Linked DNA regions of Homo sapiens. The protein of the gene in region 2 interacts with the protein of the main gene of each other region in a biochemical or structural test. Each region holds a gene or a part of one and is shown on either strand. Other genes may lie near its edges. The genes, in order: LIMK2, PODXL, PDZD2, DLG5, SHANK1, MAST2 and FRMPD4.

Region 1 (3,500 bases), on a different chromosome or scaffold from region 2:
AAACCATGTTCTGAGACACCTCAGATTCCTCGTGTAACCGGAGAATCGATAACAAATCAAATATTTACTGAGTGCCTGTGATGTCTGTGGCACTGGGCAGGACCAAGTTTTACCTCTTATAAATTTTAACAGGTGTTAGAGCCAGGAGAGAGTTTTGAGATAATGTATAGTCTCCTTGTTTTACCTATGAAGAAACTGAGGCTCAGGGAAAAAAAACGGAGTTGTCCAGGGTCACTCAACTAGTGGTAGAGCCAGAACCAAGGTAAGACTTCTGCAGTGTTCTTTCCAGTATTCCAGGCTGCTTAAGACGTACAGGGTCTGGCACATGGTAAGCCCTTAATAAGTATTTGTGGAAATGAGTTATATATAGTTTGTGCCTCTGAGAAACTTACTGTCTAGTTAAGGTAATTAAGGCAAAAAACAAAACTGCCATGCTGATCAGTAGTGGGATTGCGCCTGTGAAAAGCCACCGCACTCCAGCCTGGGCTACATAGCAAGATCCCCATCTCTTAAAAAAAAGAAAAAAATTGATAAGACAAGCTGTTATAAGGCTTGCGTATGATAACATTATAGAATTTCAAAGATGAGGGAGAATTCTCTTCAAACATTTATTCCACAAATATATATTGAGTTCCTGCTATGTGCTAAACTCTTTTGGCCCCTAGGGATACAGCAAGGAACAAGATAGACCAAATCCCTTCCCTCATGTAGTGTATGTTCTGGTGGGGAGAGATAGACAGCAAGTAAATGTATGAACATCATATTCAGGGATAAATCCATTGAAGAGAAGTGAAGTAGGGTAAGGGGATAGAAGAAGTGAGTTGTCAGGGAATGTGTTTGGCATGTTTAAAGAATAGCAGGGTATCCAGGGTGGCCATCAGTTTTGGTTAGGGAATACTTCTTGAAGTGGGTAAGACTTGAGAAATCTTAAATAGGCTTAAAGAAGGTGGGGAAGATGATATCTTAGTAGGGAAGAAACTTTGGGAGTAGGAGACAAAAGTAGGCAAGTTTCAGGTCTTCATAAAGGGTAGCAAATACGTGTGGTAGAGGCAAGGATTGGGAGGTGGAAGATTCATAGGAAGTGGAAGGTACAGCTGAGAATGTGGGTGCAACCGGACTAGAGGGTTTAATGCCAGGCTGAGGATTTTGGAAGTTTCTAGTCTACAGTAGGCACCGTAGGTTTAGAGAAAGGAAGACTCATGATGTGGGCACAGGGCCACCAATCTGGAGGTGGGTATAGTGGGCCCTGAGATGAGGTCTTAGTGGTAGCAATGAAGAAGGCACCAACCAATAAAAGATGCCTCCTGACATAGGCAGGCCAGGGTGACTTGGATGGTCCTGGATATGTGATGGAGCAGGGTAGGGTCCAAAATGACCACAAGATTTCAAAACTAAATAAAAATCCGTCATGATCAAGGGGCTGTATTAGGCTTTCCACATTCATGGTGGATTTTCTGCATCTTCTGGAGGCTGAGCTGATTCCCAGAACAGGGCTGCCTTCTTGTTAGTGTAACCTTGAGCGGGTCTGATAGGGCCCACCATCACACACATCTCATTTCAATGAGAGGACCTGAAACTGTAGCAGTCTCTTACAAGTCTACCTTCTTTCTCATCCTTTATCTATTTTTATATAGTAGAAAGAATTAGACTATTTTACCTATTAATTTACATTGAATAGTAACTAGAACATGAAACCAATGCCTGGTTTCATTAAAGTGTTCCTTGAACATTCTTTCTGGGATTCTTTTTTATCATGTCTTTCTGCCTGTAATTTGTTTTGTCCAGGAAAGAAAGTCTAAAATGTAGTTAAAGACAGGCTTTGAGCCAGGTGCAGTGGCTCACGCCTGTAATCCCAGCACTTTGGGAGGCTGAGGTGGGTGGATCACAAGGTCAGGAGTTCAAACCAGTCTGGCCAAGATGGTGAAACCCCATCTCTACTAAAATACAAAAATTAGCCGGGCATGGGGGCAGGTGCCTGTAATCCCAGCTACTCGGGAGGCTGAGGCAGAGAATTGCTTGAACCTGGGAGGCAGAGGTTGCAGTGAGCCGAGGTTGCACCACCGCACTCCAGCCTGGGTGACAGAGCGAGACTCCGTCTCAGAAAAAAAAAAAAAGACAGGCTTTGGAGACTAGACCTGTGGTCTAATCCCAGCTCAAACATTTATTAGCTGAGTATTTCAGTTTCCTCTTCCGTAAAATGAGAACAATAATAGTTCTTTAAGACTAGTCCTGATCTCATGGGATCTTTGTATTCAGTTAGCTCATACTTGCGTAGTGCTTAGGACATTGTCTGGCATAAAGTAGTTTTTTTCCTCTATCATTGACAACTGGCAGAGAACTGCTGTATGAGAATATATCAATTGGTTAACCAGTTCTCTGATAAAGATATTTTTATAGGCCCTCCATAGATAAGAAAATGCCTACTCATTCACAGTTGAGTGAACTTCTGGTTGGAAGTTGCAGTCTGGGTGGCCTGAAAGACATAAGAACCATCTGTCTCATTTGTCACTGCAGTGTATTTTGTTAATGTACTGAGTTTGCCTTGCCTGTAGCACCTGGTTTGTCCCTCTCTGACATGTTATTTCTGTGTATATCCATGTCCTTCACACCCCATGAGTACACACCAAGGGCCCCAGTAATTCCTGGCCTACTCTGTGCCTTGTACATGGGCACATAGAAAAAAGTTTGCTGAGTTTGTTTTGAAAACCTTCCCTTCAGATTTTAGAAGTTTCTGTATTCAGCTTAACCTTTTCCCCAGCCAACTTCCTAGATACACACGCAGGAAGGAAGAGAAGTTAGTCACAAATCGGTCCAACTAAGTGCCTGGCACCATGGGAGATATTTTCACATCTATTACATTATTTCTATTAATCCACTTGGTAATCCTGTAAAGCAGGTGGTATTATCCTCTTTTTAAAGATTAGGAGACAAGCTCAGAGAGGTCAAATAATTTGCCCAAGGACACAGAGGCAAACAGTGACAGATTCAGGTTTCAAACACACATACATTTACCCCTCACAAATTTTTCCAAATAAACCAAAGAAGGGAAGAAGAGAATAACAGCAAGAAGGAAACTTTCTGAGATACCTGTGTCTGTGCCTTAACCTGAAAAAGGAGAGGCCCTTGGTTTGGTGTCAGTCTCTCAGAGCTGGAAGAAATCACTTGATCCCTCCTTTTACAAAAGAACAATCCAAGGTTTAGAGAAGCTCGAAAGCTCTTTTAAAAATCATCTAATCTTTTTTTTTCCTGAGACACTCCTTTTGGTAAAATTTGGTAAGCTAGTGAGGAAGAAAACCCTTTGGGTTACAGGGAGAGTATCTAGAGGCATGTTAATCCTTACTGTTAGTCTTTTTGATAGTCACTTCATTAAAATGTGATCTTTTTCTCTTGGCTTTTCCCCAGCAGCTGCTGCCCTGCCCTTCTGCTTTCTGCTTTGTCCCAGAACAAGTGGGATTTATACACCTGACCCGCCAGTTCCCAAGGGGCCCAGGGGTTACCAT
Region 2 (2,429 bases):
TTGTTTTTACATATATATATATATATATATATATATATATATATATACATACACACACACACACACACACACACACACACATATATATGTATATATATAGTCTCTTTGCCAGTGTTTTCATACCTGATCAATGTTCAGCAGCCCTCTTGGGGATTTCTGATAGTGGTGATTCACAATGTATCTGAGGCAGAAGTAGAGGGAAGGAAGACAGCGAAACATACAACGTCATCTTAGGGGAAAGTGAGGTTCTTTAGAGTCACTAGGATAGCTTGAGTAACATAAAGACTCATAACCACCTTTAGGATCCCCCTTTTTTTTTCTTCCGGTTTCTCTCCTTCTCTTGCCTAATTTCTTTGCCTGCAGAGTTGGACAAGTGTAACTCAGCACGGAGGCTCCTGTGCTACGGGTGTGAGCCGACATTCTCAGGCACTTTGGCGATGAGCCTCATACACAAGTGAAGGCTTTAAGAAGTCCGAGGAAACTACTAGAGCTTGAACCAGTTTACACAAAAACACTTTAATTGACAGTATACAATTTTCCAAAATATATTTTTGTAAGAAAATGCAATAATTATTAACTATAGTTTTTACAAACAAGTTTCTCAGTAAATTCCAGTGTACTTCAGACCCCTGTCCACTAAGACATATATGATCCCCCAGTTCCTGGGCAAACTGTTGAACATTCACTGCAGACAAAAAGACCAACACCAAAGAGTCATCTGTGTCCTCCATGCTGTGTTTGCAGCAGACCTGAGGGATCAGCTAGTGACCGTGACAAAAGCTATGCTACAGTTTTACTCTTGCCCTCTCTGCCTCCCCCATCATGTTTCCTTGGTCCCTCAGTCCTGTTGGAGTAAGTTCCATATATAAAAGCTCATCCAAAACTTTGTTTCTTGGCAGAAAGAAAGAATTGTTCACTTACATCTTAAACCTAAATGATTCAGAGAAAGTGTAGAAGACCAGTTCTTATGTTTGTGTTCATGCCCTCCCTAGCCTTGCTAGGGTAACAACTGGGAAAGGAATTCTGTCCTTTGTGTCATTCTGGCACCTTCGAGTAGCAATTCTTAATTTACCGATTATTCCTTCTGAGGCGCACAGTCTGTGGATCCAGGTTTTAATCTTGTTTCTGTCCTGAACCATGTGATTTTGAGGAAGTCACTTCATCTTTGTGAGCTTCAGATTATCTTTTTCTCTAGAAAAAGATTGGACTAGATCTTGAAATACCTTTCTCCATGACTACAGGGTTGCCTGCCAACCAGAGCATATTGACTCCAACCTTTACTGAAATGGAGCTGTGACTTTGCTGGGGAGGGGGCAGGGTTGCATTTTAAAATTAAAAAAACAAAACAAAACACCTGATCTACAAGACAAATACTTTATCATAAGTTTGTCTTGTTATATTTCATTTTTTGTTTAAAAAAAAAAATCAAGCAAAAACTTGTCATTTCCAGTAAGACATTTACATTCCTGTCCAGAGAAAAAACTTGGCCATCACTCAGCTAACATAATGCTTTTTCAAAGTATGTTCACTTAAAGCAGTGCAGGGTAGGTTAACATGGTCACTGTATTTACATTATCAAAAAAATATGTGTATATGTATCAGTTTGAACTTGTTCTTCAAAGTTTCTCCAGTATATTGTCAAAAAAGATAAAGCTCAAGAAGTGGTTTAAATAAACTTTCTGCTAGCTTTCCTTATCAAGCGGGAAAAAAATCTGGTGCCTAGACTAGATTAAACCCGTATTCTGTCTTACAACGCAAAGAATATTCTGTACCTCCTTCATAAGCTTTGCTGCCTGTCTCCCCACTCTCATGACAGTAGGCTTCCTAGTCATCATACTTGTGGTTTCTGGCCTCCTGTGCAGCTTGGGGAAACCACAGTTTACCACTGAAAGAGCTGATGATAAACTGTCTTTGCTACAACCTGTTTAAGTCATGCTGAGCTTCTAGTGTTCCTCTTACCTCTTCCCAGACCCAATGCTCTCTGAATTATCAGAGAGCATTTAGAACCCAGTAAAGGTGGCAGAAGATGATGACCTTTATAGATGCATGGCTGTTTGGCCTGTTGACATAGGTGTCCTGGTGGCAAGAGCAAGGCAAGGTGTCAGATTCTGAAGCTGTCCTAAGCCTAGACTAACACAGTTTGGACGAATATAAAGCAGTAACCTCTGAATCAGCCCAGAGCCTCTCCGGGTTCTCCTTGGACAGAGCGATGGAGAGTCAGGAGAGTCAGGACCGACCTGGCCAGGCACTCCTGCTCTCTAGTCCTTGCCAGTCATCATCTGTCTCCAAGAGGCCATAGGGTTGCAGCCTTTGATTGATTTGCAGAGGCCTATTTGCTGTCTCCGTCAAAAGCCCTGGCTGGTGAAGTGTGACCCAGGATCAGCAAAGGAGGAATAATCCAGTCTGGCCTCTCCCACGGGACCACAACA
Region 3 (3,500 bases), on a different chromosome or scaffold from region 2:
AATACATATAACTGACAAAACTTGTGTTAATTGACTGTTTATGTTATCAGTAAGGTTTCCGGTCAACAGTAGGTTGTTAGTAGTTAAGTTTTTGGGAGAGTTAAAAGTTATATGTGGATTTTCCACTGCTCGAAGGTCAGTGCCCCAACCCTCATGTTGTTCAGGGGTCCACCATATTTCAGGGCAACGGCGGGACTACACCAATGTAACTCTTCTCTCACCAGCAGGTGGCTCCCTTGACTAGTTTATGTCCACAGTTAGGTGGCGAGAGGTATTTCCGAGATGACTAGCTCTGCTTTGAGGACTCTCTGCAAACAAACTCCACACATAGGAGTTAGGAGAATGGTAACTAGTTGCTACTTGGGGGATGAAAACAGCAGTGACACCCATCTGGCACCTGAACATTCAAGACAAGGTCTAGCTTCTGAAGCTGGCTAGCAGCACGTGAGGCCAAAGTCAGACTGAGCTGTGAAACTCGCAACCCAAGGCAGTCCTCCCTCTCCAGGACTCGGGGCGGGCTCTCCTCGGCTGTCTGGGCAGGCAGCACATACCTGGGCACTCACGCGGCCGCAATTCATGTTCCTGAGCTTTCTGTGTTTCACTCACCTCTGATTGTGCTTTCGCTTCCTGAATGAGAGTTAGGATGGTAGATTTCGATCCCACTGACGATAAAACAGACTGTAATCTTTGCTGGTCCCCCGCTGAGACTAGAAGTTGATCCAAACTAAATAATATAAATATATTTGAAGAACATTAAAGAAAAAAGCAATTTCTTCATTTTATAAGAATGCATTTAAAATGATCTCCTTTCTACTATACAAAAGAGAACAGGTATTTTCTGCTCTCTTTTGGTCAAAACTTCCATTCCAAACTAATGGAAGAATAAATCCTGAGTGCTGAACAGAAATGTCATTCACTGCCAATGGCAAGGGGAACTGCTATGAATTCAGAGATCCCCTCAAGAAGTTATGGGACCAATGCTGGAGCTTAACAGGACACTTCTGACATGTTTTAAAATATTCAATACATATGTTCAAGTGAAATATTTTTATTTTTATTGAGATGGAGTCTAGCTCTGTCACCCAGGCTGGAGTGCAGTGGCACGATCTCAGCTCACTGCAACCTCTACCTCCTGGGTTCAAGCTATTCTCGTGCCTCAGCCTCCCGAGTAGTTGGGATCACAGGCACCTGCCACCACGCCTGGCTAATTTTTTATTTTTAGTAGAGATAGGGTTTCACCATATTGGCCAGGCTGGTCTTGAACTCCTGACCTCAAGTGATCCGCCTGCCTTGGTCTCCCAAAGTGCTGGGACTATAGGCCTGAGCCACTGGGCCTGGCTTTTTTTTTTTTTTTTTCGAGATTGAGTCTTACTCTGTTGCCCAGGCTGGAGTGCAGTGACGCGATCTCAGCTCACTGCAACATCAGCCTCCTGGGTTCAAGCGATTCTCCTGCCTCAGCCTCCCAAGTAGGTGGGATTACAGGCGCCTGCCACCATCCCCAGCTAATTTTTGTATTTTTAGTAGAGATGGGGTTTCACCATGTTGGCCAGGCTGGTCTTGAACTCCTCACCTTAAGTGATCTGCCCGGCTCAGCCTCCTAAAGTGCTGGGATTACAGGTGTGAGCCACCACGGCTGGCCTCAAGTGAAATATTTTTAAATATGTTAGAAATTCTCCGTTTAACTCCAGCCACCTCCAAAGTCCAAATTCCCCCGTGCTGTGCTCTCTCTTCCTCTGCATGCCCCTCTCATGTTGCTTTTGCTTAAGTGCCATGTCCTCTAGAAGCCTCTCCTCAGAGCGACACTTTGGTAAACATGTTTCCCTGCAGGCACTTTTATTTTTCCAGCAGTGATATTAAAAACCAAGGGCACTAAAATGGAATGTAGTATCCTGGATCCTGGGACAGAAAAACGATATTAGCAGAATTTATTCAGCAAAATCTGAATGAAGTCTGTAGTTAATGGTATTGCTCCAACATTAATTTCTTACTTTTGACGAATGGACCGTGGTTATGAGAGATGTGAACATTAGGAAGAGTGGGTAAGAAGTGGCCGGGTGCAGTGGCTCACACCTGTAATCCCGGCACTTTGGGAGGCCGAGGCAGGCGGATCACAAGGTTAGGAGTTTGAGACCAGCCTGACCAACATGGTGAAACCCCGTCTCTATTAAAAATACAAAAATTAGCCAGGTGTGGTGGTGCACGCCTGTAATCCCAGCTACTCAGGAGGCTGAGGCAGGAGAATCGCTTGAACCCGGGAGGCAGAGGTTGCAGTGAGCCGAGATCGCGCCATTGCACTCCAGCCTGGGCGACAGAGCGATGCTCCATCTCAAAAAAAAAAAAAAAAAAAAAAAGTAAGTGGGAACTCTGCATTATCTTTGCAACTTTTCTATAAATCTAAAACTATTCCAAAATGAAACAAGTTTATCTGAAATAAAAGTAGTGGGCAGATACTTACTTAACTGACCAGCTTCTTCTAAAAGGCAGATCCTGGGCAGCTTCACCCGTATCACTGGCTGAACTGGGTGTCTCAGCAGCACTGGTTTTAGGGCCACTTCCTCCTGGACAGGCCCTGTTCCCGCCCTTCTCGGGACACGAAACGCCTCCAGCAGGAGGGCCAGGTGACCTCCTGGGGGTGATCTCCAGCTCAGTTTTGAAGAGCACGGCGCTCGGCCCTGCTGAGTAATCCTCGCTGCAGAGCTTGTCAAGGTCAGGCATGCTCAAGGCTCTCAGCTCCTGGAGCTTGGAGCGGGACACGGGCGAGGGCTGCGTGTGGCGTACCGAGGACTTGTTCCTCTTAACAGGAGAAGCCAGGGTCATCGTTGGGGTGGGAATTCCCAAAGGACCAAGTGATTTCTTTAGTTCCGAATCAGAGCCCTTGCTACTGGTCTCTGGTGGGTTCTGCCGAGAGATGGTCAGTGTCATGATTGAGGGAGACTTGGCCATCTGGGGCAGGAGGGTGCCGGCTTCGCTTTGGTTTTCGCTGCAGGAACTCAAGCTGCGTCTCAACAACCTTGCTGCTGCGTCACCTGGGTGGCCCAGGCTCCCGGAAACAATGCTGCCGGAAGACCGCCTCCCAATGGGAGGCTTGGAGCTCACCGACAAAAATGGGGAAGCCCCGGACTTGGCTACAGGCCGGTCAGCATTGGCCAGGTTCTCAAAAGACTTGATCCGCTGCTTCACAGAGAAAAATGAGGTAGATTCATGGGGCCAGTTCTGCTCATAGCAGTAGTGTCGTCTGGTGACTTTGATTTTGTCTGTGACTAGGCAGCTCGTCTCCTGGACTGAAATGATATCCCCTTCATCTGTGGCTGGAAGATTCCTCGATGTGTCCAGCAGCGGCTTTACACTATATATGCCCTGTCCATTAGCCAGGCTGGGAAGACCACCTCTGGATGCCTTTGCCTCGGGGACAACACTGCTTGTCACAGGGACCTGGCTGTCCCGAGAGCGACCCAGGCTGTGTGGGGGGTGACCCTCCCGTCCAAAATGGCTTGAGAACT
Region 4 (3,500 bases), on a different chromosome or scaffold from region 2:
CTGGGTATAAACCCAAAAGAAGAGAAAGCAGGGACTCGAAGAGATATTTGTACACCCATGGTGTCATAGCAGCATTATTCACAATGGCTAAAAGGTGAAAACAACCCAAATGTGTCCATCAACAGGTAAAGAAACAAATAAAATATAGAATATATATATATATATATATATGAATATTATTCGGCCTAAAAAAGGAATTTTGACATATACTAAAATATGGATGAACCTTGAGGACTTTATGCTTAGAGAAGTAAGCCAGTCACAAAAAGACAAATCTGTATTGACTTCACTTATAAAAGATACCTAAAGTAGTCAAATTCCTAGAAACGGACAACTTGAGAGGCCAAGGCGGCCAGATCGCTTGAATCCAGGAGTTCAAGACCAGCCTGGGCAACATGGCAAAGCCCCGTCTCTTAAAAAAATACAAAAACAAAAAATCAGTCGGGCATGGTGGCGGGCGCCTGTAGTCCCAGCTACTCAGGAGGCTGAGGTGGGAGAATGGCGTGAACCCGGGAGGCAGAGCTTGCAGTGAGCCGAGATCGCGCCACTGCACTGCAGCCTGGGCAAGAGAACGAGACTCCATCTCAAAAAAAAACAAACAAACAAAAAAAGGAGCTGGGTGTGGTGGCATGTGCCTATAGTCCCTGCTACTCGGGAGGCTGAGGTGGGAGGATCAATTGAGCATGGGAGGTTGAAGCTGCAGTGAGCCATGAGTACCACCGCACTCCATGCATTCCAGCCTGAGCAACAGAGTGAGACTCCATCTCCAAAAAAAAAAAAAGAAGAAAGAGAGAGAGAGAAAGACAGCAAGAAAGAAAGAAAGAAAAAAAGAGACAGACAGGAAATATTCATATAATGGTGACTGTCAAGGTCTAGGGGGCCATGTAGTTATTATTCAATAGGTACAGAGTTTCGATTTTGCAAGATGAAAAATTTCTAGAGATGGATGGTGCTGATGTTTGCACAGCAGTGTACAAATACTTAATGCTGGCTGGGCGCAGTGGCTCACGCCTGTAATCCCAGCACTTTGGGAGGCCGAGGCGGGTGGATCACCTGAGGTACGGAGTTCGAGACCAGCCTGGCCAACGTGGTGAAACCCCGTCTCTACTAAAAATACAAAAATTAGCCAGGCGTGGTGGTGGGCACCTGTAATCTCAGCTACCCGGGAGACTGAGGCAGGAGAACCCAGGAGGCGGAGGTTGTGGTGAGCCGAGATCATGCCATTGTACTCCAGCCTGGGCAACAAGAGCAAAACTCTGTCTCAAAAAAAAAAACAAAAAACAAAAAACTTAATGCTACTGAATTTGTACACTTAAAAAGTTATTAAAATAGTAAATGTTATATATATTTTTCCACAATAAAAAATGGTTCAAGGCCGGGTGCGGTGGCTCACGCCTGTAATCCCAGCACTTTGAGAGGCCAAGGTGGGCGGACCATTTGAGGTCAGGAGTTCAAGACCAGCCTGGCCAACATGGGGAAACCTTGTCTCTACTAAAAATACAAAAAAATTAGCCAGGTGTGGTGGCACATGCCTGTAGTCCCAGCTACTTGGGAGGCTGAAGGAGGAGAATTGCTGCAACTGGGGAGGCGAAGGTTGCATGAGCCGAGATCGCACCATTGCACTCCAGCCTAGGTGACAGAGTGAGACTCTGTATCAAAAAAAAAAAAGGTTCAAATGGTAAATTTCATGTTATGTAAATTATTATCACAATTTTGTTTAAATCCTCAAAGCAAATGGGTTATGAGCCTTAGTGTGAAATGAACGTCAAGGTCAACAGGAATTATCTACCAAGGGTTTAGAGGGATAGACTGCCAACATGGGACGCTCCAAACATCTCTATTTGGTTTAAAATGTTTCTGTAGCACTTTTGTGGAACGCAGTCTCAAAAAGATCAATAGAGATACACCGTTCAGAGGAATGCAGTCTATCCCAGGTAAAAGGCGAAAAAAAAATCCAATTTCCCCCCAGCGCAATCCCATTTAAGATTCTTCCCTGCTGAACACACATAGCATCCCTACTGTCCAGGCCAACACGCAGCTCAGCCCTCTTTCTCTATGTTTGCTACCTCTGTGGCTCACATCTTCCCAGGGTTTCAGGAAACGACTATAGAGCCCCCTCGCATGGGGCAGAACATACAGGTGGTTGGAATGAGGTGGGACAAAAAAAAATGAGACAACGGCCGAGAGTGGTGGCTCATGCCTATAATCACAGCACTCTGGGAGGCTGAGGTAGGCGGATCACCTGAGGTCAGGAATTCGAGACCAGCCTGGCCAAGATGGCAAAATCCCGTCTCTACTAAAAATATAAAAATTAGCCGGGGGTGATGGCACACACCTGTAATCCCAGCCACTCGGAAGGCTGAGACAAGAGAATCACTTGAACCTGGGAGGCAGAGGGTGCAGTAAGCTGAGATTGCACCACTGCACTCCAGCCTGGGCGACAGAGCAAGGCTCCATCTCAAAACAAACAAACAAAAAAAAAACTGAAACAAAATATTTATCCTACTCTGCTTACTTTTTCAGGAAATGGAAAACCAGAGTATCAAAAACCACTCAACACTAACATTAAATCAGATTAACAGCAATCCTGATGTAGAGCTGGAAGGGCCCCCAAAATCGAGTCCAACCCAATCACCCAACCTCCTTGGACCAAATGCCACCTGGGAAGTGCTCAAAACCCCACAGGAATGAGCAAGTCTCCCGTCAATGCTCAACCTCTTCTGTTTTGACTGTTGAACTGGGGGAAAAAAAAAAAACAAGCACCAGGAAGCTAAAAGGCTCTGCCAAGGTCAAGATTTTGCAGTTAGGAACAGATCTCCAGTTCAGGGCTTTTTTTTTTTTTTTTTTTTTTTTTTTTAAAGAAAAGTTCCTCAGTATTCTTTTGAGGACATCAAGTTGACATTCAAATTCTATGTGTAGAAAGGGAATGACTTTCTACTCTTAGACAGCGTGGGTGCTCCACATGGCTCCTGGCAGCCAGCTCCACACCACCAGTACCTGATGGGCAACCTTGGGAACTTCAGACATCAATGTCACACCACCTGCTTCCATCACAGACATACCGTGGGCGGTGATATCCCTGTGTACATCTGGGGCTTGCTCAAGCCTTCCTCCTCTCCCACAGCCTCTGCCACCATGAGGTCACCACTTAGGAATCTGCATGTATATTTGAAGATGATCTGGACAAGGATACATCATTCACTCTACACACAGCTGACTATTCATTCGTTCAACAAAAAATTATCGAACACCTATCTTGTACTAGGCTCTATTCTGGGCATGAGGACTATAACAGCAAATTCAGCTCAGGGAGGACAGCTCTGACACCTGCTTGGCATAGTATACAAGGAGCTCCCACAGAACCCTCAGAAACACCAGGAGATTCCCAGTTTTCTGGTTCTAAGGCTAGTTGCTGTCTACTACTGCCACTGTTGTGCTATATTACTCAGGGTAACAAAATGCTCTTCCATTTTTCCTACCATGGATTGTCAAATAGCACA
Region 5 (3,500 bases), on a different chromosome or scaffold from region 2:
AGTGCATTTGAGGCTGTGTACGTGGGGAAGGGGCTGTATTTGCATGTGAGAGAGGAGGGAGGGGAGCTGGTGCAGTGCTGGTTTGGAAGGGTAGCTGGGGGGCTGTTTTCAGGGTGTGTGTGGAGGGGCTCTATCTGGGGGCATAGCAGGGAGCTCACTTCGTATTTTAAGGAATGAGAAGGGTTTACACCTTGGGGAGACAGAGGCAGATTTGGTATTAAGCTGGGCCACAGGGGATGGAGACGTTCTGGGTGTTTAGGGGAGGAGGCCGTGCCCGGGTCTGTGTGATGTCAGCTATAGCCCAGGTGGGTGCATCTGGGGGGCCTGACAAGGGTGACAATAGGGGCTGTGTCTCAGTCTATGGAAAGGGGCTTTGAACTGGGGACATGAGAGGGCCTATTTTTAACTGAAACCAAAGAACTGAGGTTTGAGAAAGAACAAAGGGAAAAGGAGAGAGGGCCCCATGGCGGGGATGGGGGGTCCCCGAAGCCTCACCGTGAGTGCCAGGCAGTGTCGGGCGCATGCGGCCTTATGCAGTGCGGTCATGCCATCCCGGGCCCGGAAGTCAATGTGGGCCCCGCCCAGGCACAGGGTTCGAATCACCTCTACAGAGCCTTCGGTCTGGGCCGCCAGTGTCAAGGGGGTCTCTGAAGGGCGGGAAAAGCTGGTCACATGAAGCCCCTTCTCCTCCCCTCCATCCCTTCCCATTTTCCAGGCTCTGCAGCTCTCCACCCCACAGCCTCTGGCCCCGTGGCCTCCCCCTTGGACAGCAATGTGTTTGGGAGACACCAGTCAGGAATGGATGTGAATGCAGATGGCACCCCTGCTCCCCAGCTCTGTCCTGGCCCTGAGGTCCTCCTGATGCGCACCCCTCCCTACCTCCCGAATCCGAGTCATGGTAATTGGGGTCCAGCCCCTTGTCCAGCAGCCGCGCCACCTTGTCAGATGTCCCGAGCTGCACATACTCCAGGAACTTCTTCAACCCCGTCTGAGCCATGGGCAAAGAGAGAGAAGACAGGACAGTCAGGAGCAAGGCAGAGAAGCAGGGTCCTCAAGCAGCGACGTCCAGTGAAAATATACGTGGAGTCACATACGCCATTGAAAAGCTTCTAGCAGCCTCCTTTACAGAGAAAATACCCAGCCCTTTGGGAGGCCGAGGCGGGAGGATCACTTGGGCCCAGGGGTTCGAGACCAGCCTGAGCAACAAAGTGAGACCCTTATCTCTACAAAAAATGCAAAAAACTAGCCAGGTTGTGGTGGCACACGCCTGTAGTCCCAGCTACTCGGGAGGCTGAGCTGGAAGGATCCTTTGAACCCTGAAAGGTTGAGGCTGCAGTGAGCCATGATTGCACCACTGCAGCCCGGGTGACAGAGCAAGACCCCGTCTCAAAAAAAAAAAAAAAAAAAATCAGGGTGGTTGGGGGTGAAGTGTTAGTTGTGTTGAAATTCGTGTTAATGATATATGTTATTTAACTGATATAGCTACAATGTTACTGTTTCAACAGGTAATTGAGATGAAAATTATTAATGAGGTTATTTAACTTTTTTTTGGTACTAAGTCTTTGAAACCCAGTGTGTATTTCACACTCACAGCGAGTCTTAGTTGGGACCAAACACACTGCAAGCACTCAGGAGCCACACTTGGCCAGTGGTTCCCAAAGTGGACCGTGAAAGTCTGGAGGGATGGAACATTTAGGGGAGGAAAGAGTTCAATGCATGCTGTGGTGGGGAGAGGGTAGACAAGGAGGGACTGGGAGTTTTTCCTTCTCAAGGATCAAGAGTTCTTCATTTCTGACCAAAGCAGTTCCCGATTTCCTCCCAGCTCTCACCATCGAGACACAGGACAGACAGGGGCTGAGGACTGGCGGGCAAGGTACCAGGAGGACAGATATGGCTGGAAAGGGGGGTGTAATGGTTGGATTTTGCAGAGATTCAGGCTATGAGGTTGGGAGAAATGTAGCCTGTCTTTGAAATAGACTCTAGGCAGAAGGACCTTCAGTGTCAGGGTCCTAGGCCAAGGTGGGGAAGTAAAGAGGCCTTGGATGGATATGGGGGGAGGCAGGGGAAGAGAAGGGAGACTCAAAGGAGGCCAGGTGGGAATGATGTGGGCCCAGGCAGAGGGATGAAGGGCAAAAGAGGAAAGTAAGAAGGGGTTGTGATGGGGATAATGGGGGGTATTTGTGGTTGTCTCAAATGTGGTACAGCATCCCAAGTTAAGCGGGGGCAGTGGCCAGAGGGATCGCTGGCTTGGGGAATGTGGAGGTCTATTGGGAAGAGGTGGGGAGAGAAAGTGGTTGGGTAGGGGGCTCCAGTGGTAGGGGGCTATAGGGGATAGATGCCAGCAGGGTTTTCTCACCTTCGTGTGCAACTTGGCCAGCTGCTTCTCATCCAGGTTGGTCTGTTTGTAAACTCGGGTCTTGTATCGGAACTGAGGTCAAGGGTAGGGTAGTGAGAGAGACACAGAGACTTGGAATCAGGGGCCTGGGGAGAAGGCTTGGGGTAGGGGAAGGTCTGATCCCCTTCTAATTCCCCGGGGTAGCTCAGGGTGGGAGTGAAAACAGCCCTGGAACCTTGGTCTAGGCGGTAGATGGGTGGCAGTGGCTTTTCCGACAGTGCTGGGTATTATGGTATATGTGCACTGCAACCCCTGCCTTGAAGGAGGAGGAGTCTGGACCCCACAGGGAATGTTCTAGAGTGCCTACTGTAATTGGGAATCCTCCCCCAATTTGATGGGTGAGGAGAAGCTTGGGGCAGGAAAGTGACTTGGCCAAGGCCACTTAGCTGGTCAGAAGCAGAACAGATGGTAATTTGAACTCAGGACTCTCTGACTTCCCTGTGATGCTTAGAAGGTCTGGACTCGCACACTGGGTGCCCCCTCGTTAAGGTTTCGAGTGTGTTAAAAAGTGGGTGGGGGGCAGATGTGTTTTAGGGCATGCCTTCTCTTATCAGTGAAGGAGTTGGGGAAGCTTCACCTCCAGGTAGGGGACCCCCTTCTCAAAGGACTGGGGGTACTCCCGCAGCAGCCTCTCCTCCTCCAGGAAGTTGGCATCGCGGCCGGAGGTGGCCGGTTGGAACAGGCCATAGTTGAGCACATCCTGCAGGCTCTCGCTCAGGGCACAGAGCACCTGCTGCTTGGCCGTCCAGATGGTGGCATCGGGGTTGAAGCGAAGGCATTTCTGGTTGGGGAAGAGATAGGGGCTAGGGTGGGCCAGGGGCCAGAGGAGAGCCTGAGGTGGGTTGGGAAGTGAGCCAGGAGCTGAGTGTGGGGGTGATTCCTGGGAGGATACCCAGCACCAGTGGACTCCCCATGTCGGTTGGGGCACTGTCCCTCTCCTGCCGCTGGCCAGTGGGCAGGTACTCACTGTCTGGTGCAGGTCCGGGATGCCAATCCTGAAGACCATCATGCTGAAGTGGGCGTCGTCTGGGACGGACATTGAGCGGCCCTGGAGGCCTCTAACAGAGGCCAGGCTACCAGGTGCCCCACTGCCCTGGCCCCGGGT
Region 6 (3,500 bases), on a different chromosome or scaffold from region 2:
AACTCTTAAACTTCTTGATAGACCATGTCCTGATGACACGGCTCAATGCTTCCCCAGAGCTCAGGGAATGGAGGATGCGTGGTAGTAAGAGGCGTGGGAATCTTGTCTGGGAAAGGAACAATGATCGGATGTCAGAGGAATCTGAACTCCTGCCCACCCAGGAGGCTTCTGGGAGTGAGAAGGTCCACCCCGAGGCATCTGCCCAGAGGACTGGGCAGCATACACTCTCACATGGAAGAGATCAAAGGCTGACCCGGCTTCAGTCCTGGCCACACCCTGACCCCTGCCTTTACCCATAGGCGCCATTGCTGATGAGCTTAATGGTCTCGAAGTCCTCTTCAGAGGGTGTCTTTTTAGATGGCAGAGATGCCCCATGGCCCTGGAAGACAAGGGAAAAGGCAGGAGACAGGCATGCTTCTCAGAGCCCATATCCTTGCAGAAGCTGTGGCTCTAGCATCTTCTCAGCTGTCAGCTCTAGTGCAGTCTCCTGCTCATTCTTCTGGGAGTAGAATGACTTCTCAGTGTTTGCTGTCACCAACTCCCCCATCCCTTCCTCAGATATTCTCTTAAAGAGAATTCATAGCTCTTTGCTTCATAGGGCCCAGGCTCCAGGAATGGGGTAGGAGCTCAGGGTTTTTACCTCAATAGAATCATCTGTCTCTGGAGTGTCAGGACTGTCACAGCTGCTCAACTGGGCCATTTCTGGAAACAAAGATACAAGAGAAGAATGTGCGTGGCAATGTCAGGTATCTCAGCAGTATCCTCAGATCACACAACAGGTGCATGTAGGGTAGTCATTAATGCTTTTTGCATCAGCCTAGGATGTGAATTCAGTCCCATGGCACTATACCCAATGTAGTCCCAGCTTTTGGATCAGGAAACAAGCCAAATCCTACTGCTACTCCCATTTCCAGAAGTCCATTGCCATTCACAGGGCCTGGCAAATTCTATAAACTGGGGACATTTCCTGGAAAACAGGGCCTGAAACTGGGTTACTAGTTCCCATCCTGCTGGCCAAGACTGCTTCACTGGATGGGGCTGGGAAGCACAGAAGGCAGGAGCAGGATACCTACAGACCAGGGACTTGGAAGCCCATGGTTGCTGCAGGGGTTCAGCAGGAAGCCCAGAAGAATGGCAGTATCCTCTGAAGCCCTGTGTTGGACTACCCCAAAGACACAGGAAGACCTGTAAGGTGGCCAAGAGTAGAGGCAAGTTGCAGAGGAGGTGACCATTTTTGCAAATGTGATTGTGGCCCTTTGTTGTTGACCTCTTTGGAACTGAGGTTCTAAATGCAACTCAGCCGGGCCAATGCAATCCAGGTTGGGATCTATCAGGCAGATGTGAACAGCAGTTCCAAAGTAAAGACTGTTTTGTCACAGAGATCACAGGGTATCTCCTAAAATCCTGAGGCCCCCGGGGCCATGTTGTGTCCATGTCCAAGCTAAGTCTCTTTTCCAAGCAGCTTCCCTGCTGTTAGAGCTTGCCAGCAGCAGTGGGGCCTCTTTGCAGCCACTAGGCAGCATGCTCACCTTCTAGGGGATCCCGGGTGAGGCCCAGCTGGCTAACGATGTAGCGGGGAATGTCACATTTAATCCCTTGTCCCTCTTTGGCGTGGCCCTCAGCTGCTTCTAAAAGGTGGTAGAACTCTTCAGGGTCAAACTCCTGTACCAAGGGAGAGAGATAGTCAGTGGTGACAGATATAAGCGAAAGCTGCTGGCATCTTTGGTTTTACAGCATATAGTAGACTGAGATGAACAAGACTTTCTCTGTGATAGGACACTCCCACCCCTGAATATTCAGAAACAACATGATTCAGGGATCACAGGAATGGGGACAAAGATGTCTTACAGGTCACCTCCAGATTGGACATGCTAAGCATATGCTGTCTTCCTGGCAGTAAGAACTAGAGGTTTTACTCTAAAGAGAGCTCAGCCTATTGATCTGGTCCCATGCTTTCCATCAGCCAGGTGGCACTGTCTGGTGTATTCAGATGCCCAGTCCACAGCTGTCCTGGCACACACTCAATTATGGCTCACAAGAGCTTTGGCAAAGCCCTACTGGTGCATGTATACCTTCAAATATTTACTGGGCACCTCCTATGTGCTAGAGGCTGGAAATCCATTGAAAAGCACAATCCTTGTCTGCACATAATAACTGAGTGCCTACTAAGTGCCACACACTGGGTTAAACCCTCTAGCAACTCTTTGACCTCACTGAGGAAATCAAGGCTTTCAGGGATGCACTGATTTGTCCATAATCACAGTAGTAGGAAGGAACAGAAAACCAGCATTCAGCCCAGGTCTGACTCCAAGCCCCTGCTTAGCCAAGGACTTCATGTTCCTGAGGGAGAGGCTCTCTGCTCTATCACAGCATAGCCTCTGCCCTGAACTCTGTTCTCATTCCCTGTGGCCTCACTGTTTTGGAGAACTGTACCTATCTGGATATAACCTACGCCAGACCTGGAAGTCCTTTTAACTTCTTATCCTTCCTTAGCTCCTATTTGGTCAGAATGTCTCTCTCATAAATACCCCTCTAATCCACCTCTTTCTCTCTATTATCCTACCATTCACTGTCTGAGTTCTGGCCACCCCATCTCACATGAATTTGCTTTGAGTACCTCTCCCCTGATGTCCCTGGCTCATCCTGCCCTCTCTTCCAATTCACTATCCATGTTGCAGCCAAAGTAATCTTTCTTAGGACTAAATCTGATGTAATATTTACACAGAAATAAATAGGAACCAATTACTGATACATGCAACAACATGTATGAATTTCTACAAACATGCTGAGTGAAAGAATTCAGAACATACTACAGAAACCACACAGAAACATGGTTTCATTTCTAGGAAACTGTACAAAAGGCAAACCCATCCCTAGTGAAACAAAGCAGTTAAGTTATTGTCTGGGAGCAGGAGGAAGAGAGGACTGACTTCAAAGGGGCACAAGGGAACTTATATGACAGAAATATTCTCTATGTCAGCTGTGGCCACGATTCTACAAGTGTGTATTTGTTAAATCTCAATGAACTGTACCATCAAAGGGATATATTTTATTGTATGAAAATTATACCTTAATAATATTTTTTAAGAAAAAAGTAAATGCGGCCATGTCACATTCTTACCTAAACTTTCTGGTGTCTCCAAGTGGCCGTAAGGGTAATGAAAAACTCCAGAGCCGAGAACCCGACACCCTCCATGACCCTGTCACAGCCTACCTTCCAGGCTTACCCCTCAGCACTTCTTCAAACCCACCCTGTGCCCCACTGAATGCTCCTTCCCATGCTCCCGATCTGGGAAACTTAGACTCATCCTTCAGTTTGCTGAATAAGCCTCACGTCCCCCAGGGAGCATTCACTGAATGTTCCTTCCAGGGAAGACTAAAGCACTTCCTTTTCCAGGTTCCCGTTACGCTGTGTACTGACCTCAACTGCAACACTTCTTGCAGTATTGTAATTACTATTTACATGTCCTCATGCCTCATGCTTCCCAACTCCACTGTAG
Region 7 (3,500 bases), on a different chromosome or scaffold from region 2:
ATAGAAATGATTGTGTTTTCCTAGCTTTCAAAAAAGACTTTCTAAAATAAAAACTTACTGACATCTATAAAAACCCATTTCAATATCATCATAACTTTGCTTATTGAGCTTAAAGCAGTAAAACAGAGACTCCTTGGAAATACAAGTTGATGACTTTTTAACCATCAATCACCAAATATATATATTATATTTTATATATATAATATATATATACTTCAAATGTAAAAACAGAAATAAAAGTTTATTCTCTGAGACCAAGTCCAAGAGCAGGCTATTTACTTTTAACATGTACATTGTATTCCGTTATATTCAATAAAGAAGTACTGACATGGTAATTGTTCAGCTAAACAAATATGACAATTTGTTTGCAACAAATGTTAGAATGAATTGTATATGACTTCACTCACTAATTATTTAGTATAGACTATTTATCTTATGCCAAATTCTGTAAACCATACTTGAAAATATATTTCTGAAAGAACAGTTCTGGCAGAAAACCCTTCTCATCTCTTTGCCAGGAAAAAAAAAAAAATGGGAATGTTAACTTTGTTATCTAAAACTAAGGCTTAGATTTCTTCAAGATAATTTTCAGAGCTTAAGTACATAATGACCTAAATTACTCAGAAGCAAGGCAGCATACTTTTGATATATGTTTTTGCTGTAAAGAACTAAAGGTAGTCTATGATTTCTCATTATAATGCTCTCAGTCAAATCATAGGAAAGTTAGATTAAACTCAACTCCAAATTGATACAGCCTACCTCCATTCCTCTGACTACAACTAAATCCACTTATCTGGTTTTATTTCCATTTGGAAACAGATTAGTGAAGGTCATTAGCCATTAGGACCAGATGGCTCAAGTGTACTGTAAGGAAATACTAGGCATTCTCCTGTTGACTTGATTATCAGTTCACCAGCACACATTGGTTGAGGCTATACAAGTAGTATCACCCATTCTTTTTCCATACATTTTGAACTGGATATTTATGGAAGGCAAACATCACCTTAACAAGCAACTCTCCAGCTCCCCAAAAATATCAGGTCAACTTAGTGACCAAAGAATAAGCATGCATAATTTTTCCAAGTGCAACAAATTAGTAGGACAATTATGTCCACTTCTAATGGTCAGTTTCCAACAGTTCAAGAAGTAATTTGAGATCAGAAGTTTCAATAAAGATAAGGTCTATATTAACTGGTAATGTGCATTAGTGAATTCAAGTATTTATTATAATATGCTCAATTTGACGTGTGTGCCCGCATGTGTGCTGATAATGATAAAGAAGCGAAAACAGGAAAAGGCATTGTTTAACCCAGGGGTCAGTGAATTCAAGTATTTATTATAATATGCTCGATTTGACATGTGTGTGCCCACATGTGTGCTGCTAATGATAAAGAAGAGAAAACAGGAAAAAGGCATTGTTTAACCCAGGGGTCAGTTAACTTTTTCTGTAAAGAGCCAGAGAGTAAATATTTTAGGCTTTGTAGGCCATAAGGTCTCTGTGGCATCTATTCAACTTTGCTGTTGTCAGGCAAATGCAGCCATAGATAATACATAAATGAATGGACATGTGTTCCAATAAAACTTTATTTATGGACACTGAAATTTTAATTTCATATTATTCTTTTTTTGATATTTTTGAACCATTTAAAAATAAAGAAACCATTCTTTGCTCACAGGCTATGCCATAACAGTCAGCAAGCCAGATTTGGCTCATAGGCCACAGTATGCCAACCCCTGTTTTAGCCTATTCATAATTTTCTTTTCCTGCTATGATTAGCTTTCAAGATTAAAGATCATTTGATGGTAACAGTGGTAGATTTCAGGACGGTATGCTTAAACAAAGATTTTAAACGGTCTTGAGTTTTCTTATTGAGCCAAGTGTGAAACCAGTGGTTTCAAGTTCATTCCTTAAAGATACATTTCTAGTTCACCAATAATGTACATTCTCTTACAGCTAAACTTCCACGGTTAACCTCAAATGAAATAACAAAGTACTAAAGTTGAACAGTGTATGTGTATGTAAAGGGGGAGAATGAACAGCTGGAAGGACCATAAGCAGAAAGTGAGACTTTCCAGGTCATGCATTTAAAGTACAAGTAAGTTTCACTGCAGCTGTCAGTCTGTACCAAATTCTGATAGCAAGAAGGTGAAACTCACTTGCCCCAGACAATAAGAGAGAGAGAGAGAGATGCTTGAAATGGTACAAAGCCTGACCTAGACGCCTTCTTCCCAGAACTGCGAGCGACTAGACTTTCACAGCTTCAAACTAGCAACTCTTGGGAAACTAGAGTTAAATATTCCTAAAACAGGAATCTAGTTCTGTTATGAAACTGTTCATCATTTCACCTCCTGACAGTCACAAAAATCAGCAGAACTTAGAAAGGATTCAGAAGATGAGCAAGTAGCATTTTTAATAAAATTCAAATCCAGAGTCTTTGGGGTTTTTTCATTGCTAGCCTCCAGAGCTCACTATTATCAGCAATATTAATACAATTACTCAGTAAAAATAGGGGATATGGGAAAAACCCTGACCTTTTGCATTACTTCTTTAACTTCCCCTTTTCCCTGGGAAATATTTAATTCTGAATAAGATAAAGGTAAAAGACAGAAGTTTAGTAGTATCTAAATGGACTTGACATAAAAATCTAAGGAAACTATACATATGTATTTTGTATTTTTCCTCAAATATAAGATACTTGTAAGAAAATTAGCATTCTAATATTAGATATTAGTCACTGCTATATACCACAAAATAACCCATGCAACTATAAGAAAATGCAAAGTAAAGCATTCCCCAAATTTACCTACTACTATAAGAAATCATCATATCAACAGTGGGGACTCAATCATTATCATCAAGTCTACCGTTTTGCTTAAAGAAAAGAAGCCAAATCAGGGACTTAATCTATGAACATATCACTCAATTTAATAACATCCCTATGAGTTTTGGATCTCAAATCATCTCCCTCTGGCAAAAGGGGCATAATCATATGTTTTTCTACTGGACTGCATTCTTCTATAAACATTTGAAAGAATGCATCTGCTTTACAAATAAAATAGTCAATACAAAGAGCAGTAACAATAAAAATATATGCCTGTTTTTATACTATTACTGGTTTATAAGGCAATCATCTGTAATGCTCTCATCTACAAGGATGGAAAATAATATAGAACTGTTACCAAGGAAACAGTGAAGTAAAACTGCATGTAAACTATCAAGCAGTTTAAGAACCAGAAAATTAGAAGAACGGGAAAAACCATCTTCAGATAGAACCATGACACACTGTGCCACCCACGAAGGATGCAATCAAGGGTCATAACTCTAACTGATGATGTAAAGGGTGCCAACTACTTACCAGCAATTCCAACACTTGGCAGCAATTTTTTTTTAATGGTACTGGGTTATTGAGGGGCACTGTCAATTCTGATTTTTCCCACGATTAAAAGGGTATAGATTCTGGAAACGAATAGTTAAATGTAGACACTCTAAAAAGTCAAAA

Evidence for each region.
Region 1: the proteins of PODXL (region 2) and LIMK2 interact in a test that uses a peptide from one of them, tested with the Homo sapiens proteins (one large-scale study listed by IntAct).
Region 3: the proteins of PODXL (region 2) and PDZD2 interact in a test that uses a peptide from one of them, tested with the Homo sapiens proteins (one large-scale study listed by IntAct).
Region 4: the proteins of PODXL (region 2) and DLG5 interact in a test that uses a peptide from one of them, tested with the Homo sapiens proteins (one large-scale study listed by IntAct).
Region 5: the proteins of PODXL (region 2) and SHANK1 interact in a test that uses a peptide from one of them, tested with the Homo sapiens proteins (one large-scale study listed by IntAct).
Region 6: the proteins of PODXL (region 2) and MAST2 interact in a test that uses a peptide from one of them, tested with the Homo sapiens proteins (one large-scale study listed by IntAct).
Region 7: the proteins of PODXL (region 2) and FRMPD4 interact in a test that uses a peptide from one of them, tested with the Homo sapiens proteins (one large-scale study listed by IntAct).

The regions. Positions count from the first base shown.
Region 1 is NC_000022.11:31,215,298-31,218,797, forward strand, and holds part of LIMK2 (LIM domain kinase 2), read left to right. Parts: intron 1-3,500. UniProt on the Homo sapiens protein: Serine/threonine-protein kinase that plays an essential role in the regulation of actin filament dynamics. Acts downstream of several Rho family GTPase signal transduction pathways.
Region 2 is NC_000007.14:131,499,771-131,502,199, forward strand, and holds the end of PODXL (podocalyxin isoform 1 precursor), read right to left. Parts: 3' UTR 501-2,429; downstream 1-500. UniProt on the Homo sapiens protein: Involved in the regulation of both adhesion and cell morphology and cancer progression. Functions as an anti-adhesive molecule that maintains an open filtration pathway between neighboring foot processes in the podocyte by charge repulsion.
Region 3 is NC_000005.10:32,090,131-32,093,630, reverse strand, and holds part of PDZD2 (PDZ domain-containing protein 2), read right to left. Parts: coding exon 2,456-3,500; intron 725-2,455; coding exon 607-724; intron 21-606; exon of another isoform or gene 1-20.
Region 4 is NC_000010.11:77,916,756-77,920,255, forward strand, and holds part of DLG5 (disks large homolog 5), read right to left. Parts: intron 1-3,500. UniProt on the Homo sapiens protein: Acts as a regulator of the Hippo signaling pathway.
Region 5 is NC_000019.10:50,713,303-50,716,802, forward strand, and holds part of SHANK1 (SH3 and multiple ankyrin repeat domains protein 1), read right to left. Parts: coding exon 3,363-3,500; intron 3,177-3,362; coding exon 2,973-3,176; intron 2,429-2,972; coding exon 2,357-2,428; intron 989-2,356; coding exon 880-988; intron 648-879; coding exon 496-647; intron 1-495. UniProt on the Homo sapiens protein: Seems to be an adapter protein in the postsynaptic density (PSD) of excitatory synapses that interconnects receptors of the postsynaptic membrane including NMDA-type and metabotropic glutamate receptors via complexes with GKAP/PSD-95 and Homer, respectively, and the actin-based cytoskeleton.
Region 6 is NC_000001.11:46,020,112-46,023,611, reverse strand, and holds part of MAST2 (microtubule-associated serine/threonine-protein kinase 2), read right to left. Parts: intron 1,663-3,500; coding exon 1,530-1,662; intron 703-1,529; coding exon 641-702; intron 380-640; coding exon 294-379; intron 1-293. UniProt on the Homo sapiens protein: Appears to link the dystrophin/utrophin network with microtubule filaments via the syntrophins. Phosphorylation of DMD or UTRN may modulate their affinities for associated proteins. Functions in a multi-protein complex in spermatid maturation.
Region 7 is NC_000023.11:12,141,473-12,144,972, reverse strand, and holds part of FRMPD4 (FERM and PDZ domain-containing protein 4), read right to left. Parts: intron 1-3,500. UniProt on the Homo sapiens protein: Positive regulator of dendritic spine morphogenesis and density. Required for the maintenance of excitatory synaptic transmission. Binds phosphatidylinositol 4,5-bisphosphate.